Homo sapiens: one gene and its partner. The protein of the gene in region 2 purifies or fractionates together with the protein of the main gene of each other region. This does not show direct contact. Each region holds a gene or a part of one and is shown on either strand. Other genes may lie near its edges.

Region 1 (3,500 bases), on a different chromosome or scaffold from region 2:
TGAGTTTCCTCAGGCCGGGTGAGGCCCCTCCTCAGGCTCCCACCACACACCATGTGTGCCCACCTCTGCCAAAGCCAGCACAGGACCATCTGCTACCAGACCCTAAGCTCCTTGAGGACAAGGATGCTTTAATTCTCTCTGAAATTATCCCATCCCCCAGGCCCTGGCACATCTTGTTTTGTTTAGTAAATGTTATTGAACTGCGTGGGGAGGCTGAGACTTCGGGTCCATAACCTGTATTTCATGCCCTTTGCATCCTCAACAGGATGGTTATTGCAAGTTCCAACCTGGAAAGGCCATCGGCTTTGTCAAGGATGTAGCCAACATCACAATCGTGAGTGCCGATCCCCCTCTGGGATGGGGAATGTGTCCTGATGAGGAGGCCTCTCTCATGCTGTCGGATAGCCAGTGGGCCCAGCAAGGCAGCCCTTCTGGCAGCACATCCCTTTGACGAGTTCATATTATCCCTGGGTCTCAGTCGCTGTGATGGTGGCGAGGCAGGAGATGGGAGGGAGAGCGCAAACTGGCAGGCAGGCCCTCTGGTTCTGAACTCCAGATCCACACATGCCTTCATTCTTTTGGTTCTGTTTTCTTGCTTGTAAAATGCAAGCAATTGTCCGCATCCTGCAGAAGAGGGTATGAGCACGTGCTTGACACAGCGTGTGTGAAACTGAGGAGGGTGAGTGTGTGTCACTCAGGATGAGCCAGGTTCTGTTGCAATAACAACCGTGCCCAATCTGCATGGCTGACAACAGTCAAAGGGTGTGTGGCACTCCTGCGCCCATGCACAGCTTAGGGAGGGTGGTGTGTGCTCCGTGTCATTGGCCTCACGCCAGGACTAGAGGGAAAGAAGGTGGTAAATGATGCCCTAGCTCTAAAGCCAAAACAAGCCGCCCAGTCACAGTTGACCTCAAGTGAATAGGGAAGTGTGGTCTTACCCTGCTTCTCCCAGAGAGAACTGGAACGTGAATGAACGCCTTCGTGACTGCAGTGTGCATGCATGCAAGTGTGGGAGGGTGTGTGAGGAGTGGAGGAATATCGCTTAGGTTGTGTGTGCGCCCACGAATGTATGTACAGTTCACAAACGTGATGTCTGTGTAATGACAGCGGCTGCCATTTAGTTGAAGCATGTGCCAAGCTCTCAGCAATAACATCTTAACTTGATGGAGTACTTCTAGGTGCTGTACCAACCCTCAATACGCACTATCCCCTCTAGACCCGAACTGGCCCTAGGAGATGAGTATCCTTATTACCTCATTTGACAGGTGAGGAAACGGGGGCTCCAAGTGGTTAAGTAATGTGCCCAAGGCCACAGAGCTAGGAAATAGATGCTGGATTTGAACTAAGAATGTGTCATTCCAGAACCAGGGCTCATTGCCTTGACAACATACAGCGCAAATCCTGTACTCAGGATGTCACCCTCTTCAGAATGTTGCTGCTGTCACTCAAGCTGGCTGCTCTGGGCCATGATATCCCAAGGACAGGTGAATTTGGGCCTCAAAGGTATCCCTTTGCATGGTCCCCAGGAGAGCCTCATTGGTGACACCTGCAGGGCCCTGACGACCAGGCCAGAACTAGCATTCAGCCCTCTTGGGCAGGCCCATGGGGTGGAAATGGTGCCACCTGCAGAAGTCATCGCCCCTGTGCTGGGCTGGCCTCTGTGCCCTCCATGTCTCAGATATGCCCTGACCTGTTGGGCTCACAAGGCCTTGTCCACATACCAGGAAGGAGGGCACTCCCTTGCCAGGCACCTGTTTGCTTTTCACAGCTGGGTCTCTGTCCACCCCTCTAGGGAGGCAGGACTGAGGGAGGCTGGGCGCCCCGTCCCTCCTGCACTTGCTTTCCTTCAGTAGGGCCCTGGCCTCAGCACAGGTAACTTCCCCCCTCATTTCAGCTCCCAGAGGTCTCTTGGTTAGTGCACTTGAACCCAGCCACCCCCAACCCAGAAGCTCCAAAAAGTGCCAATGCCTGGGACCCACCCTGCAGATACTGTTGTAGTTGGTCTGAGGCACAGCCTGGACTTGGGGTTTTTTTAAGGTTCTGCATGGGGTTCTACCTGCTGCTGTCACCTGGTCTCTGCAGCTCTGTTCCAAAGCTGCAGCCTCCAGGAAGCCACCCTGACTTCCCCCCACCTACCTTCCCCCTTGGAGGGGACAGGTTCTACTCAGAAGTCACACAGCCCTCGGATGGGTCTTCTCGTTTCCACCGCCATCTGGGACCTACCCGTCCATGGTTTATAACCCCTGTGTTCTAGCAGCAAAGCTTTGTAGACTCTGGGTTTATGGGTGTAGGGGTGAGAGCTGCTGGCCCAGGAGAGGACCTCAGGGAATGGATGTGAATGACTGAATGAGTAGGTCCACGCTGTACCCCGTGGTCCCTATCTCAGAGGGTGCAGGGTTTCCTAGGAGCAGAGTTGGGGAGAGGAACGAGAGATGGCCAGACAGACCCAGCCAGAGACAGGAAGGGAGAGAGGCCGCAGGGGAGCTGCTTCTGGCCATCCATGCTGCTCTGGGCCTCTAGCCCCTAGCTTGAGGCAAAAGGCTGTACTGTGAAAGGAGTGGGGAGGTGACAGGCCATGTGTTTCTGTCTCGGTCCTGTTTCCACAGTATGACGAGGAAGCGATGGTGGAGGCTGTGGCCCTCTACAACCCTGTGAGCTTTGCCTTTGAGGTGACTCAGGACTTCATGATGTATAGAACCGGCATCTACTCCAGGTGAGTCAGGGTCCCAGGAGCCAGGAGGGACAGTGGGGAGGGGCTTGGTGGGCCTCCTCACACCCCACTCGTGGGACTTGGGCTCGTGGCCCAGACTCCTGTGTGTCAGACCCTTCATGACACCTGCCAGGTGCTGGGCGTTTTGCACATCCCTCAGTTAATCCTCACACAGCCCCAAGGGCCAGGAGCCATGGCCTCTTCTCACAGCAAAGGAGAGGTGGTCAGAAGGGATACGACAGACACAGGCCACCTGGCTAGTGAGAGCTAGGGCCAAAATTTGAGAGCTTTGTGCTCCTTAACAGAAGAGTTGCCTCCAGTTTAAAAAAAACCCATGTTCAGGCCAGGCGTGGTGGCTCATGCCTGTACTCCCAGCACTTTGGGAGGCCGAGGCAGGTGGATCACTTGAGGCCAGGAGTTCAAGACCAGCCTGGCCAACATGGCGAAACCCCATCTCTACTAAAAATACAAAAAAAAAAAAAAAGCCAGCGTGGTGGTGCATGCCTATAATCCCAGCTACTCGGGAGGCTGAGACACAAGAATGGCTTGAACCTAGGAGGTGGAAGTAGCACTAAGCCAAGATCGTGCCACTGCACTCCAACCTTGGTGACAGAGCAAAGCTCTGTCTCAGAAAAAAAAAAAAATACCCATGTTTAAAGATTTGAAGACGTAAAATAGGGAGAAGAGTAGCTGCCCTCACACACTAGGATCCTGTGCTGGAGGAGTCACCCCAGGCTTCTTCAGAAAAACCAAGCTTTAGCCTCTTTACTATGGGGTTTCTCTCACCCAC
Region 2 (4,023 bases):
GAGCTTCCACTTTCTGGAGCAGGCATGTCCCAACCCCACCTCAGGGCCTTTGCACTGGCTGTTCCCCACTGCCTGGGGCTTCTCAACCTCTCCAGTCTCATAGAGACCACCCTGACCAGGGTCCAGTGGTCTCTCTCTAGCCCCTGTTCTATTTCACTTCCAAAAGAGTGAGCATAACTCCCTGACCCTAATTTTTGATCGTAACCTACCATCCCCTACACACATTGTGTAGGAATGGACTATGGAGTTCCATAGAACCAGCCACATGTGCCACAGGATACTTGAAATGGGGCCAGTCCAAAATTACTTCTGGTCTAAGTGTTAAAAATACACAGGGAATTTCAAAGATTTACAAAACCAAAAAAAAAAAAAACAAAAAAAAAAAAAACATAAACGATCTCATTAATAATTGTTCCCATTAGCTGAAATCACATTGTGGCTATATAAGGTTAAATAAATATTTTAAACATTACTTTCACCCATTTATTCTCATCTTTTAAAATGCATCTACTAGAAATTTTCAATTGCTCGTGAGTTCGTGTCACATGTCTGTTGGGCAGCAGCTCTGCAATGTCACCTCTATGGCTCATCATCCAGGTTCCGTCTTCAAGCCCTAGACCTCCTGGCACGGGGAGTAGCTGGTGATAGGTTTGCTTATTGAATAATGAATTATGAAAAGAGAATCCAGTGACCTTTTCCAAAAAGGTTAATTCCCTTAAATTTGGCAAAGAAATTCTCCACATTAGGGTATGGACAGGGTCTTCTGGAACTTTCTGAAATAATCTCCCTGTTCCAGAGATTCAGAGACTGTGACCAAGTGCTCCTGGATGCCCCTGATATCTGAAGACCCTGGGAGGCCAAGCCCTGTATTTTTCCCCTTTCTGAGCAAACAGGAAGTCACATAGCTTTCACAGTCAAAGGACCAGTGTCACCTCTGTGGAGACCTGGGTGACTCAAGCTTGGGAGCACTGGGGAAGAGAGGCATGGCTCGGGGAGGCTGCAGTGAGGACTGGAGTGGGGAGGAGGGGGAGATGGAGGAGGAGGCCTGGGAGGGGCAGGGGGAACTTAGGCAGGGAGGGAGCTTGTAGTAGCGGGGGAGTGAAAAGAGAGATGGAGAAAGAGGGGATGGGAAGAAAGAGGAGGAGGAGTCAGGGGTGGGGCATGGAGGTGGGTGGGGCTGGGCTGCCAAAGCAGGATAAATGCACACCTGCCTGCTGGTCTGGGCTCCCTGCCTCGGGCTCTCACCCTCCTCTCCTGCAGCTCCAGCTTTGTGCTCTGCCTCTGAGGAGACCATGGCCCAGTATCTGAGTACCCTGCTGCTCCTGCTGGCCACCCTAGCTGTGGCCCTGGCCTGGAGCCCCAAGGAGGAGGATAGGATAATCCCGGGTGGCATCTATAACGCAGACCTCAATGATGAGTGGGTACAGCGTGCCCTTCACTTCGCCATCAGCGAGTATAACAAGGCCACCAAAGATGACTACTACAGACGTCCGCTGCGGGTACTAAGAGCCAGGCAACAGGTAGGTGCTCCCTCCACCCCAGGGGTCCTGGGTCCCAGCCTGGTTTGTTCCCCAACCCCCAAGAGCATTCCCAGCAAATCAACACTGATACATTCATGATCTAATGCTCAGATTCATTCAGCTTTCCCTGGCTCTCCGCTGATGCCCTTCATGCCTAAGCACGCTCCCCGGCCGTGCACAAACTCAGCTTCCTTTAACCTGCAGCAGCCACTGTGTCTGTACCATGACTGTGGCATTTCCCAGGGTCCAGCAGGTGTGGATGGAGACTGTGCTTACTCTGGGTGGGCTTGATGCTGCTCAGGATGAGATCCAGGCCATGAGGTTCATACTCCTCCCTGAGTCCTCTCTGCAGGGGCCACACAGGAACCTGGCTCACTGTTCTGCAGAGCCCTGCTTCCCCAAGTCACGCCCCTGGGCACAGCCCCTTATGGCTAGCGGCCTTCACCCTCAGGCCGGCTGACAAACCCCTACAGCCCAGGGCGCTGAGTCCCTGCTGGGGTGGAGCATGCCTGACCCTGCCTCTACCAGCTGATGCAGTTAGACCTCAGCCAGATGAGGACAGTGGTCACCCAGCAGAGCAGAGGAGGGGTCAGGTCGGGAGGGAGCTTCAGCAGGGCAACTGGGCCCAGCTTGACCTGCATCCCATGGCACAGCAGCAAATAGTGACACAGTCTTTAGAGCTCCTCCACCTTCTCCTGGAAATTCAAAGGAATCCCCACCAGCCCCGTTTCTCCTCTTGCAGCTGTCAGCTGGGGCTCTCTCCCTGCATACGAGATACACTCCCTGGTGCCGTGGTCCCCGCTGGCCTGCATCTCCCTTTCAAGCATGACAGTAACTTGGAGTGAAGCACAGGGCATTGCAGACCATCAGGCCCAGAAGCCTATTTTAGACATGGGTAAACTGACACTCGAGGGATCTCAGCAGTTCCTCCTGGTTCCAGAGAGTCCCTCATCCCAGGTTTCTCCACAGCTCTGCCACATTGTGTCTGGGAAAGGCCCTATGCAGGGAAAGGGTTCAATTCTAATCTGCAACTGTAAGACACGCAGGTGTGCTGCTGACTTGAGAAATGTATCTTGAATCTCACACTTGAAATGGTGGCATCCGGGCGGCCCCATTGATCCAAAATATCTGTGTGTGTGAAGCATCTCATTTCCTACTCTGAGTGAAGTAATAAATCTATGTTAAATGGAGGGAATAAGATTTTCAGAAGTTAGGTGAAATTTTGTCATCAGACAGACTTCCTAGAAAAGAGTCAGTGTTCCCTCGCCCCTGAGCCACAGACAGCAGAATTCAATGAATCCTTTTACCCAGCACAGAGAAAGCAATGTTTAAGAGCGGGTATGAGGCTCAGCACCCTGCCAGTTGACAGGAAGAGGGGGCTTGTGTGCCTTGTGTTGACATGTGGGCAGCTCACGAAGCCCCCAAGCAAGTCCAGTGACTCAGCCACAGTGAAGTGCCTGTGAGTGCATGAACTGATGGGGGCGCTGTCCTGTTTTCTCCTGTGTGCAGACCGTTGGGGGGGTGAATTACTTCTTCGACGTAGAGGTGGGCCGCACCATATGTACCAAGTCCCAGCCCAACTTGGACACCTGTGCCTTCCATGAACAGCCAGAACTGCAGAAGGTACGTTCCTGATGCAGGTCCCGGGCCAGTCATGCACTGCAGAGGGGTGCGTATGTGTCAGCCTCTGCCCTACACATGTTTGGAGGGTGTGTGTGTGCAGGTGGGTATGTGGGGAGCCGTGTATGCATGGATGTGTACGTGTTCATGTACTTATGGGGGGGTGTGCATGTAGGTGTGCATGTGGAAAGGTGCACGTGTGTACACACCTGTGCCAGTGTGTGCAGGGAGGTGGATGGGAGCATGTGTGCCTGTGCATGGATGTGTGGGGGGTGTATGGGGCTTTGTACATAGATCCATGGGGATGAGGGGTCCAAGTGAGTTTACGTAGTTGTCCATGTATGTGCAGATGGGGTGGTGAGGGAGGAGGGTGATGTGTTTGATTTGCTAGGAAGGCTTTAGGTTGGGAATGGTTACTATAAGGTCAATTCTGCCTGCTTTGGAGTGTTGCCTGTTGGACAGGAAGAAGCAGCTGTGCGGCTGTGTGCTGGGCAGGGAGAAGGGGCTCTGTCTAATCCCAGCCTCAGGCACCTGCATGCAGCCACAGCCACAGTGATCAGATTAGTGGGACCTAGAGGCCTGTTAGCTGGGAAGCCCTGGACCTGCCCGGCTCACCCAACACCAGCCTCTCCAAGGACCTGCTGGTTCTTGTGAGGTCTCCACTCAGGGGAGAGCCACACTCCCCTTGTTGCCCTTGCCCCATGCCCCAGCTCTTTGAGGGGGAGTTGCCCTGCCCTGGGTTCTTCCCTCTGGCCCCTCTTAGTGCTGGCCTGGGTGCTGGAGGTGGAAGGAGCTGGGGGAACTGAGCTGCCTCCCCATGCCCTGCACCCTTGGGGCTCCCGAGGCCTTGCCCAGGCTACTCCTCACAGGGCTGTGCTGGGAC

What was found. Proteins that work in one complex are often made in the same cells at the same time.
Region 1: the proteins of CST1 (region 2) and CTSH purify together in Homo sapiens (affinity purification with mass spectrometry; 2 studies listed by BioGRID and IntAct, with this or other methods). This does not show direct contact.

What each region holds. Positions count from the first base shown.
Region 1 is NC_000015.10:78,924,547-78,928,046, reverse strand, and holds part of CTSH (pro-cathepsin H isoform a preproprotein), read left to right. Parts: intron 1-265; coding exon 266-334; intron 335-2,606; coding exon 2,607-2,713; intron 2,714-3,500. UniProt on the Homo sapiens protein: Important for the overall degradation of proteins in lysosomes.
Region 2 is NC_000020.11:23,748,136-23,752,158, reverse strand, and holds the start of CST1 (cystatin-SN precursor), read left to right. Parts: upstream 1-1,223; 5' UTR 1,224-1,292; coding exon 1,293-1,520; intron 1,521-3,029; coding exon 3,030-3,143; intron 3,144-4,023. UniProt on the Homo sapiens protein: Human saliva appears to contain several cysteine proteinase inhibitors that are immunologically related to cystatin S but that differ in their specificity due to amino acid sequence differences.